Regions from separate parts of the Homo sapiens genome. Here region 1 is linked to region 2. The links come from fine-mapping of genetic effects on gene expression. A gene starts in region 2. The other region holds a variant in brackets. All regions are shown on one strand. Distances are from middle to middle. Region 1 overlaps ZC3HAV1 (zinc finger CCCH-type containing, antiviral 1). Region 2 holds the start of IFT56 (intraflagellar transport 56).

Evidence for each region. PIP is the estimated chance that this variant, and not a neighbour inherited with it, causes the effect. A credible set is the group of variants that fine-mapping cannot tell apart.
Region 1: its variant is the best candidate, but not a certain one, in a credible set for the expression of IFT56 in whole blood (INTERVAL, PIP 0.82).

The regions. Positions count from the first base shown.
Region 1 is chr7:139,099,810-139,105,192 of GRCh38, forward strand. All of the region lies in intron 1 of ZC3HAV1 (zinc finger CCCH-type containing, antiviral 1), which reads right to left. Among named protein-coding and RNA genes, the nearest start is that of ZC3HAV1, 7.2 kb to the right of the region's middle. RefSeq lists an enhancer at 1,966-2,537. The variant T/TACAC (reference allele first, on the strand shown) is at 2,919.
Region 2 is chr7:139,130,527-139,135,909 of GRCh38, forward strand. IFT56 (intraflagellar transport 56) reads left to right here and starts at 3,252. Exons shown (of 18, transcript NM_024926.4): 1 at 3,252-3,334; 2 at 4,129-4,266. The coding sequence starts at 3,332. RefSeq lists enhancers at 3,077-3,371, 3,089-3,268.

The DNA.
Region 1 (5,383 bases), 31 kb before region 2:
CCAGCTACTTGGGAGGCTGAGGCAAGAGAATCGCTTGAACCCAGGAGGCGGAGGTTGCAGTGAGCTGAGATCACACCACTGCACTCTAGCCTGGGTGACAGAACAAAAAATAAATAAATAAATAAATAAATAAACCTCAAAAAAGTAAATAAATAAAATAAATAGTTTTAGCCATTTTTAAAATGGTAAAAAACAAACAAAAAATAAATACTTTATCTCAAAAAATAAATAAAAATAGTTTTAGCCATTTTTAAAATGGTAAAAAACAAACAAACAAAAACTGTTACAAACAAAAATAGAGTGCTATGATGACCAAAAAAGTAAAATGCGAATAAGAAGCAACTACTAAGATGCCAAGTAAGACAAACTTAAAAAAATGAGTAATAAGACTTAAAAGGGCTAGAGATCCAGAATATATAAAGAATTAAAACCACAATGAGGGCTGGGCGCGGTGGCTCACGCCTGTAATCCCAGCACTTTGGGAGGCCAAGGTGGGCAGATCACGAGGTCAGGAGATCGAGACCACCCTAGCGAACATGGTGAAACCCTGTCTCTACCCAAAATACAAAAAAAAAAAATTAGCCAGGGGTGGTGGCATGCACCTCTAGTCCCAGCTACTCAGGAGGCTGAGGCAGAATGGCGTGAACCCAGGAGGCGGAGACTGCACTGAACCGAGATTGCACCACTGCACTCCAGCCTGGGCGACAGACCGAGGCTCTGTCTCAAAAAAAAACAAAAACAAAAACAAAAACAAACAAAAAAAACCACAGTGATACAATTTCACATTCCTTGTATTGGCACAAATTTTTAAAAGCTGACGATACCACTTGGCCACTATGTGAGGCAAGGGAAGGCTCTTATTCTTCTGGTGGGAGTATAACTTGGCAAACACACTTCGGAAAACAATTTGGCATTATCACATAAAACTTTAAGAATCAAAATTCCACTCTCCCTCTCTTTCCACGGTCTCCCTCTCCCTCTCTTTCCACGGTCTCCCTCTCCCTCTCTTTCCACGGTCTCCCTCTCCCTCTCTTTCCACGGTCTCCCTCTCCCTCTCTTTCCACCGTCTCCCTCTGATGCGGAGCCGAGGCTGGACTGTACTGCTGCCATCTCGGCTCACTGCAACCTCCCTGCCTGATTCTCCTGCCTCAGCCTGCCGAGTGCCTGCGATTGCAGGCGCGTGCCGCCACGCCTGACTGGTTTTCGTATTTTTTTGGTGGAGACGGGGTTTCGCTGTGTTGGCCGGGCTGGTCTCCAGCTCCTAACCGCGAGTGATCCGCCAGCCTCGGCCTCCCGAGGTGCCGGGATGGCAGACGGGGTCTTGCTCACTCAGTGCTCAATCTTGCCCAGGCTGGAGTGCAGTGGTGTGATCTCGGCTAGCTACAACCTCCACCTCCCAGCCGCCTGCCTTGGCCTCCCAAAGTGCCGAGATCGCAGCCTCTGCCCTGCCGCCACCCCGTCTGGGAAGTGAGGAGCGTCTCTGCCTGGCCGCCCATCGTCTGGGATGTGAGCAGCCCCTCTGCTCGGCTGCCCAGTCTGGGAAGTGAGGAGCGCCTCTTCCCGGCCGCCATCCCGTCTAGGAAGTGAGGAGCGTCTCTGCCAGGCCGCCCATCGTCTGAGATGCGGGGAGCGCCTCTGCCCTGCCGCCCCGTCTGGGATGTGAGGAGCGCCTCAGCCCGGCCACCACCCCGTCTGGGAGGTGTACCCAACAGCTCATTGAGAACGGGCCATGATGACGATGGCGGTTTTGTGGAATAGAAAAGGGGGAAAGGTGGGGAAATGATAGAGAAATCGGATTGTTACTGTGTCTGTGTAGAAAGTAGACATGGGAGACTTCATTTTGTTCTGTACTAAGAAAAATTCTTCTGCCTTGGGATGCTGTTGATCTATGACCTTACCCCCAACCCTGTGCTCTCTGAAACATGTGCTGTGTCCACTCAGGGTTAAATGGATTAAGGGCGGTGCAAGATGTGCTTTGTTAAACAGATGCTTGAAGGCAGCAGACTCGTTAAGAGTCATCACCACTCCCTAATCTCAAGTACCCAGGGACACAAACACTGCGGAAGGCCGCAGGGTCCTCTGCCTAGGAAAACCAGAGACATTTGTTCACTTGTTTATCTGCTGACCTTCCCTCCACTATTGTCCTATGACCCTGCTAAATCCCCCTCTGTGAGAAACACCCAAGAATGATCAATAAAAAAAAAAAAAAATCAAAATTCCACTACTAGATCTCTAGGGAAACTCATGTACATGTACACAAAGAAGCATATACCAAAATGTTCAAAGCATAATGGTTTAATAGCAAATACTTAAAACAATATCAATTTTACTTTGTTTTTTCAGAGGCAGGGTCTCATTCTATTGCCCAGGCTGGAGGGCAGTGGCGCAACTGCACCTGACCGCAGCCTTGTCCTCCCAGGCTCAAGTGATCCTCCCGCCTCAGCCTCCTGAGTAACTGGGACCACAGGTGTGTGCCACTGTGTCCAACTAATTTTATTTTTTAATGTTTTTGTAGGAGCTATGTTGCCCGGGCTGGTCTCGAACCCCTGACTTCAAGAGATTCTCCCACCTCGGCCTCTTGAAGTACTGGGATTACAGATATTAGCTACTGAGGCCAGTCTCAATTTTAATAATAAGAAGATCAATATATAAATTGTGTACATTCATGCAAAAGAAAACAATGAAGACATTTCAGGGAATCAGAGTAGACCTTCTCTAAAATTGGTGGGGCCCAGAGCAAGGTTATAAATGGAGGCTTGGATACAAATGTCTAAATATTTAACAGTAATAAATCATGCTGAGCTGGGCTTAGTGGCTCATGCCTGTAATCCCAGCAGTTTGGGAGGCTGAGGCAAGAGGAATGCTTGAGCCCAGGCACTCGAGACCAGCCTGGGCAAAATAGTGAGACACTGTCTCTA[T/TACAC]ACACACACACACACACACACACACACACACACACACACACACAAATTAGCCAGGTATGGTGGCACTAGCCTGGTCCCAGCTACTGGGAGGCTGACATGGGAGGATCGTTTGAATCCAGGAGGTGGAGGCTGCAGTGAGCCATATTTGCACCACCACACTCCAGAGTGGTGACAGAACAAGATCCTGTCTCAAAAAAAAAAAAAGTATATATATATGTATATGTATATGTATATGTATATGTATATGTGTGTGTGTGTTTATATATGATATATATAAAATAAAAACTTTAATACAAAAACTTTAAAATTTGTTGTAAAAAAATTTTTTTGGAGACAGAGCCACACTCTGTTGCCCAGGCTGGTGTGCACTGGCATGAACATAGCTCACTGTAACCTCAAAATTCCTGGGATCAAACAATCCTTCTGCCTCAGCCTCCAGCACTGCTAGGACTATGGGCATGCACCACCACGCCCAGCTAATATTTTTTATATAATTATTTTTATTTTTTATTTATTTTACTTGTTTTTTATTTTTTTATTTTTTTATTTTTTTTTTATTTTTTGATGGGGTCTCACTATGTTGTCCAGGCTAGTCTTGAACTCCTGTCCTCAATCCTCTCATCTTGGCCTCCCAAAGCACTGGGAGTACACCCATGAGCCACTGCACCCAGCCCAGGAAAAAAATTTTTTTTGAATTCAAATAATGACTATTTCAAAGCCTTCCGACTGGCATAAGCCAAAAAAGTCTGATAACACCAAGCATTAATTGGCCAGAAAATGAGGAAACTGGGACACTCAGACATATAAGTATAAATTGGCACAGCCACCTTTATACTAATTCGTCAGAATCTGGAAAAGTTGAAGCTATGTAACAATTCAAACCAACAATTCCACTTCCTAATGATCTACCCTGGAAAAGCTCTAACCATGAGCACCAGGAAACACTTGCACGTAAATTCTTGGCAGCACGATTTGGTATAACAAAAACCTGGAAATATACTATATATCCATTACTGGGGGGAATAGGTAACTGAACTGTGGTATAAATCCTATGATGAAATACTTTTCAACTGTTAAAATGAATAAACTAGGTCCTTGTGTAGCAATATGAATAGATCTCCAAAACACAGCATTGAATAAAAATTCTAAAACACATAAAATACTACATTTTGTATATGGATGCAAACATATACAAGAGGAAATTATAAAATCATGGAAGGACAAGATACACACCAAAATCATGATTGAAGCTGCTTCTTAGGAAAGGGAAATGAGACTGGGGATGAGAAAAAAATAACCTTAGGTCTGTTATGATTGTTTAGTATATTTTAAAAGAGGAGCAAAACTGAAAAATGTGAACACTTATTTATCCCAGGAGGTGAGTTATAACTTTTATGGGTTCAGAATAAATATTCTCTGATGCTTGCGTTTTTCAGTATTCTATTCAACTTGCGAAACAGTCAACTAGTCCTCTTCCCATCTACCCACCCCCACCCAAAATGTGAATTAACCGAAAAGGAAAGACATACAAACAGGAAAGAACCCAGAGGAAACACCCACATCGGCAAAAACCGCAAAGCAAGGTAAAGACCCTTAGGCAGCCTGCTTGAAACAGTTAACAGAAATCATGCAGGCAAAATAAATTTTTGAATTAATAACTTCATATAGTTACTGGACAATGTAAGTAGCTAGTTAAGAAGTCAAGGCCGGGCGCGGTGGCTCACGCCTGTAATCCCAGCACTTTGGGAGGCTGAGGTGGGCGGATTGCCTGAGCTCAGGAGTTGGAGACCAGACTGGGCAACATAGTGAAATCCCGTCTCTACTAAAATACAAAAATGAAAAAAAATTAGCCAGGCGTGGTGGCAGGCGCCTGTAGTCCCAGCTACGCGGGAGGCTGAGGCAGGAGAATCGCTTGAACCGGGGAGGCGGAGGTTGCAGCGAGCTGAGATCACGCCACTGCACTCCAGCCTGGCAACAGAGCGAGACTCTGTCACAAAAAAAAAAAAAAAAAAAAAAAAAGTCAAACAAGGCCGGGAGCGGTGGCTCATGCCTGTAATCCTGCACTTTGGGAGGCTGGGAAGATTGCTTAAGCCTAGGAGTTTGAGAGCAGCCCAGGCAAAATGGCAAAATCCCATCTCTACTAAAAAATACAAAAATTAGCTGGGTGTGGTGGCACATGCTTGTAATCCCAGCTACTCGGGAGGCTGAGGCAGGACAATCGCTTGAACCGGGGAGGCGGAGGTTGCAGCGAGCTGAGATCACGCCACTGCACTCCAGCCTGGGTGACAGAGTGAGACTCTGTCTCAAAAAAAAAAAAAAAAAAAAAGAAAAGAAAAGTTAGCCGGACATGGTGGCGCCCACCTGTAGTCCCAGCTACTCAGGAGGCTGAGGGAGGAGGATCATCTGAGCCTAGGAATTCGAAGTGGCAGTGAGCTATGACCGTGCCACTGCACTTCAGTCTGGGT
Region 2 (5,383 bases):
GCAAACTATCGCAAGGACAAAAAACCAAACACTGCATGTTCTCACTCATAGGTGGGAACTGAACACTATGACACAGTGAGAACGCTATGACACAATGAGAACACTTGGACACAGGAAGGGGAACATCACACACTGGGGCCTGTCATGGGGTGGGGGGAGGGGGGAGGGATAGCATTAGGAGATATACCTAATGTAAATGATGAGTTAATGGGTGCAGCACACCAACATGGCGCATGTATATATATGTAACAAACCTGCACGTTGTGCACATGTACCCTAGAACTTAAAGTATAAAGAAAAAAAAAAAGATTAGACAGACAAGGCCCATTATAGAAATCTCTTAGAAGACTTTCATAAATGCTCAGGACTGTAGGCAGACACACAAAACTGCAAAGGCATTGCTTCAAGCCACTCCTCACTGTTTCTAAGAGTAGTTGACTGTAGTAAAATACAACAAGGTCAACAAAATCCAGATGAGTCAGTAATATCATATTTTGAGAGGTGTGAGTAAACTTAAACAATATTCGGGTTTATCTGAAGAAAGCTAAGCTAATAATCAAAATGATATTCTTCTCAACTCCAGTTTTATAAATAGGTTAGATGAAGAATTAGCACTAATAATGAAAAGACAAAACCCTCGCTGGGCCACTTCTCAAAATCATAATTTGGTCAGTCTTGCTGCCCAGTTGTCTCATAACTGAAGACAAATCTGAGAAGGAGGCCAAACAAAAGAGCAAGGCTAATAAAATTATGATTTTACAGTCGAAACAAATGTCCACACAATTTGGACCTTCAAGATATCCTTATAAATCCGCAAATAGACTTAACCATACACTTTCAATTAATGCAAAAAGCCTGATCACATTAAAACGAACTGCCAAAAACTAAAAAGGAAAGAACAACAGGTGGAGTCAGATAATAAAGAATGGGGGTGCTCCATGGAACTTAAAGGGGCCTTTCCTTTTCTCCTTACACTCTGAGAGAAAAGAAATTGTTTAAAACTCCCCTTACTGTTTTCATCCCTCATTCTGTGGAAGCATTGCTAAACTTGAACCACACTCAACGTTATTCAATGAGTAGACTAACTTCATAGAAAGTTTCACTTCTTTTAGCTTCTCATGTCACCATCTCTAGATGTAACAAGCTAAATATTGCAACTCTTCTTCCTTCACTTTCAGATGAAACACCACACAATTGCATAACTCTAACTGATAAACTTGTTTTCTCCTAGGACTGATCTGCAAGAGACTTTTCTTACTTAGGCTAATGTTGTTTGGTTTACAGACGCATGTTATTTAAAGGATGAATCTGGAACTTACTGTAAAGGTTTACGCAATAGTGTCTTTAACAGAAGAAATAGAAAGTGCTTACCTTCCAGAAGCCACTTAGATTCACTTCTGTCTTTGTACCACAACTGTGTATTGAAGATGTCATTTGCCATGTACAGGCCCTAACCAATTACACACAAAAGGCCCTAAATAACAGCCACATGAATGTCTCATTATTAAATAATGAAGTTACTGTCATGAGAAGACTGTATTACAAAACTGTATGGTCTTAGACATACTCACTGCAGCCCAAGGAGGAATCTGTGCTATGACAGAAACTGAATGCTGTGTTTATATCCCAGATGAATCAAATAACGTCACCAAATTAATAACTGATTTGAAAAACTCTAATAATTAACCTTTCGGATCCAAAACCCTCTCTAAGCTACTGGTTAAGTAATTGATTTGGATCTTGGGGAACTTGGTGGCAAAAGCTGTTATGTATTTTAGGAATTATCATAGTTTGTGTTTTGTCTTGCCTTTGTCTGCAGAGCTGTTATGGTATTTATCTGCAATTGGGTCAACACACAGCTGAGAAAATGTGTAGAACAAAGACTACTCAGAGAATTGTTTGATTGAAGAGGCAGCCGTGTAGCCTGAATCAGGTTCCAGAACTACTTTCTCTTGTTGCTTTATAATTCGGACTTGGTCCTTTCCAATTTCCCCTCCTCCCTGGGATGTGACTGCCAGGAAGGGGCCTTCCTAGTGACATGAGGTTTGATCAAATACACGGCCTGAGAATATAATTCTTCTATAATGCTTTCTCTGAAAGCTTTTGAAGAAAAGGGGAAAATGTGAAAAGAAAATTTCAGCACTTTCCAAACGTACTATGCCAAGGGGAAAAGTTAAGCCCTGTAAACTAAATCACAGAACATGGCTGTTTTTCTTCTCTGGTGCATGACTGTTGCTTCCTGATCTTTGTGTTGATGTTATATATTAACCAGATTTTTTATTCTTTATTCAGACTAAATGACGTTGGAGATAGAGACCCTTGTGATTGTTACCTCTTTACAATAGAATATTAAACAACCCCCTTACAGTGTAATCAATAGTAGTGAATTGAATCTTCTGTGTACGTTAGCCTCATCTAGAAAATGCTGTAATTACGTACAGCACTCCTGTTTTTGGTGATATAAATGACCCTCACCTTTCCCTGCATCAGGGAGCACTGATCACCATTCTTTGCTGTCAGTGGTTCCCGGGATAGCCGCCCTCACACTTTGCACTTGAATAAACTCTTTCAACTGGATCCCTGAGCTTTTTGGTTATTTTAGGCTGACATTAGTTAACTAACAAGATGTTAGTTCTTCAGTCTGTTAATTCTGAGGGGTTGACCAGAGGTCCTGTAAGGTCCCTTCCAACTCTAACATTCCACGATTTCGTGAATTTAAAGACTGTGGTTGCCCCTGTATTAACTGGGTTCAGGAGTAAGATAGATAAATTAAGTCATCCAATCGACAAATATTTATTACAGTTCTCTATTGTGTGTAGGTGTATCTGTGGAAATAGGAAACTGTATTTTGGTGCACTCCTGCTTCCAAATCACAGAACTACAACTCCTTCAGCAGAAATTTTCTAAGCTTCCCGCACCAGCCAGAGACCAAGATTCTGCGGTGCACATAGTCAAGGGTTGCTATGGAGTCCAACACGGCCCCAAACAGAAGTGGTCCCTGAAAATTTCTTTCCCAGAAAACTTGCATTTGAAAAACAATGCCATTCCAATTCGCCTTTTCCTAAAGTAAACTCATAAATAGAGACAACCAAACTTTCGCTCTCAGCCCAGAGAACGACGCTCTCCTCCCAAGAGGAACCTCGGCTCTTCCGCGGCAGAAGCTGCACGGAACCAAGAAGCCGCGGGCGCTGGTTCTCCAACGAGCTTTTCTCCCGTTCGTACCAGCGTCCAGGCGGGGTTACCGTGGAGACAGAACGTGCTGTGTGGATGCGGCGAAACGCTGAGGCGCGGCCTTCGCTGTGTGGTGGGGACTCACAAGACCGACGTCAAGATGGTTAGTGGCTCTGAATAGTAAGGGAGTACTTTGAGTAGGTCCTGAGGCTGGCGATTAGAGGTTCCCAGCACACTTCTGTGTGAAGTCTAGGTGTGTCCGCAGAGAGTAATCCCCAGCTCTCCCTGTGTTCCCACGGGGGACAGGGATGCAACTGTAAATACCTCGGTGCTTTCTTCCCTCCTGCTTTTCCGTTTACTCACATTTAAACCACTCGTGGGATGGGAAGCAGAGGAAGGGAAAGCTGAGATGACAGAAGCAATGCGAAAGCATCTCTAGCCAGAGAAGATAAAAGTTGGGAGTAGCTGTTTGGTCCTTCCTAAGTATTGGCTGATGGCTCTTCTAGTAGAATACCTGTTACAAAACGAGTTTGAATAGGCTTCCCTGGGGTTCGTTGTTAAGGATTTGACTTATAATTTTTTTTTTTTTTTTGAGATGGAGGCTCGCTTTGTCGCCCAGGTTGGAGTGCAGTGGCGCGATCTTGGCTCACTGCAACCTCTGCCTCTAGGTTCAAGCGTTTCTTCTGCCTCAGCCTCCCGAGTAGCTGGGACTACAGGCGCATGCCACCACGCCCGGCTAATTTTTGTATTTTTAGTAGAGATGCGGTGTCACCATATTGACCAGGCTGGTCTCCAACTCCTGACCTCGTGATCCGCCGCCTTCGCCTCTCAAAGTGCTGGGATTACAGGCATGAGCCACTGTGCCCGGCCTTGACTTATAAATTACAGAGCTGTCACTCTCAGTTTAAATCTGATAATCAGAATTGGACCATACAGCTGTCTTTGTTTCTTTTACAGATGCTTTCAAGGGCCAAACCTGCTGTAGGCAGAGGCGTACAGCACACTGACAAAAGAAAGAAGAAAGGTAGGAAGATTCCAAAACTAGAGGAGCTACTTTCAAAAAGAGATTTCACTGGAGCTATTACCCTGTTGGAGGTAATGCCCAAAGAACGTTGCTTCTTAGTGTATGAATACCAGACTGTAGATGAATGCTTGGGTGAATGCTGTTTGCTATGCTCTTGAAATAGGTGGGTGCATTCTGGGGCTTCCTGTACAAATCCCCTGTAAATCTAGTCAGGCACAGATTCCAGATTCCAAGTTAGCTATAAACCTGATAAAAAACGAACTAAAAAACTAAACTTGGCCGGGCGCGGTGGCTCATGCCTGTAATTCCAGCACTTCGGGAGGCCGAGACGGGCAGATCACAAGGTCAAGAGATCGAGACCATCCTGGCCAACATGGTGAAACCCCGTCTCTATTGAAAATACAAAAATTAGCTGGGCATGGTGGCACGTGTCTGTAGTCCCAGCTACTCGGGAGGCTGAGGCTGGAGAATCGCTTGAACCCGGGAGGCGGAGGTTGCAGTGAGCCAAGATCATGCCACTGCACTCCAGCCTGGCTACAAGGCGAGACTCCGTCTCAAAAAAAAAAAAAAAAAAAAACAAAACAAAACTTATTTCTTGAGGGCCACTTTTGAGTATGTCTAGTTCACCAACAGTGATTACAATCTAAAAATATGAAGGGACCTTTTATACAATGTCATTTCACACATTGCTTATCCCAACCCTTGACCAATGTATGATTTTTTCCTATTATGTGTTCTAAAATTTTGATCAAACTTAAATAATTCTAACATGCTTACGGTTGAAAATATAGCCCCAGAAAATATTTCAAATCTCCATGGCAGTAGTTCTCACCTTTTAATATACATTGGAATTACCTAGGGTACTTAATAAGATATCGATTCCTGGGCTCCTGCTGTAAGTCTGCAGAGGTGCTCAGGAATCTGCATTTTAAGGTGAGTAGTCTAAGTGCTTCTGATGGAGATGGTCCCAGGAGACTGTGCTTTAAAAAACTGCTTTGTGGGAAACACATGTTATAGGAGGGTGAAGGGTTGCACCAAAGAATGAAGAGTTCTGACAGCATGGTCTGGTTGTGTTGTACCACACTCATTTCTCTTAAAATGCTACTCTGTCCATATTACTCTGAATCTACCCTTAATAATTGTTATAATTAGGTTTACATATATTTCTCCATCTTCCACAAATAGTTC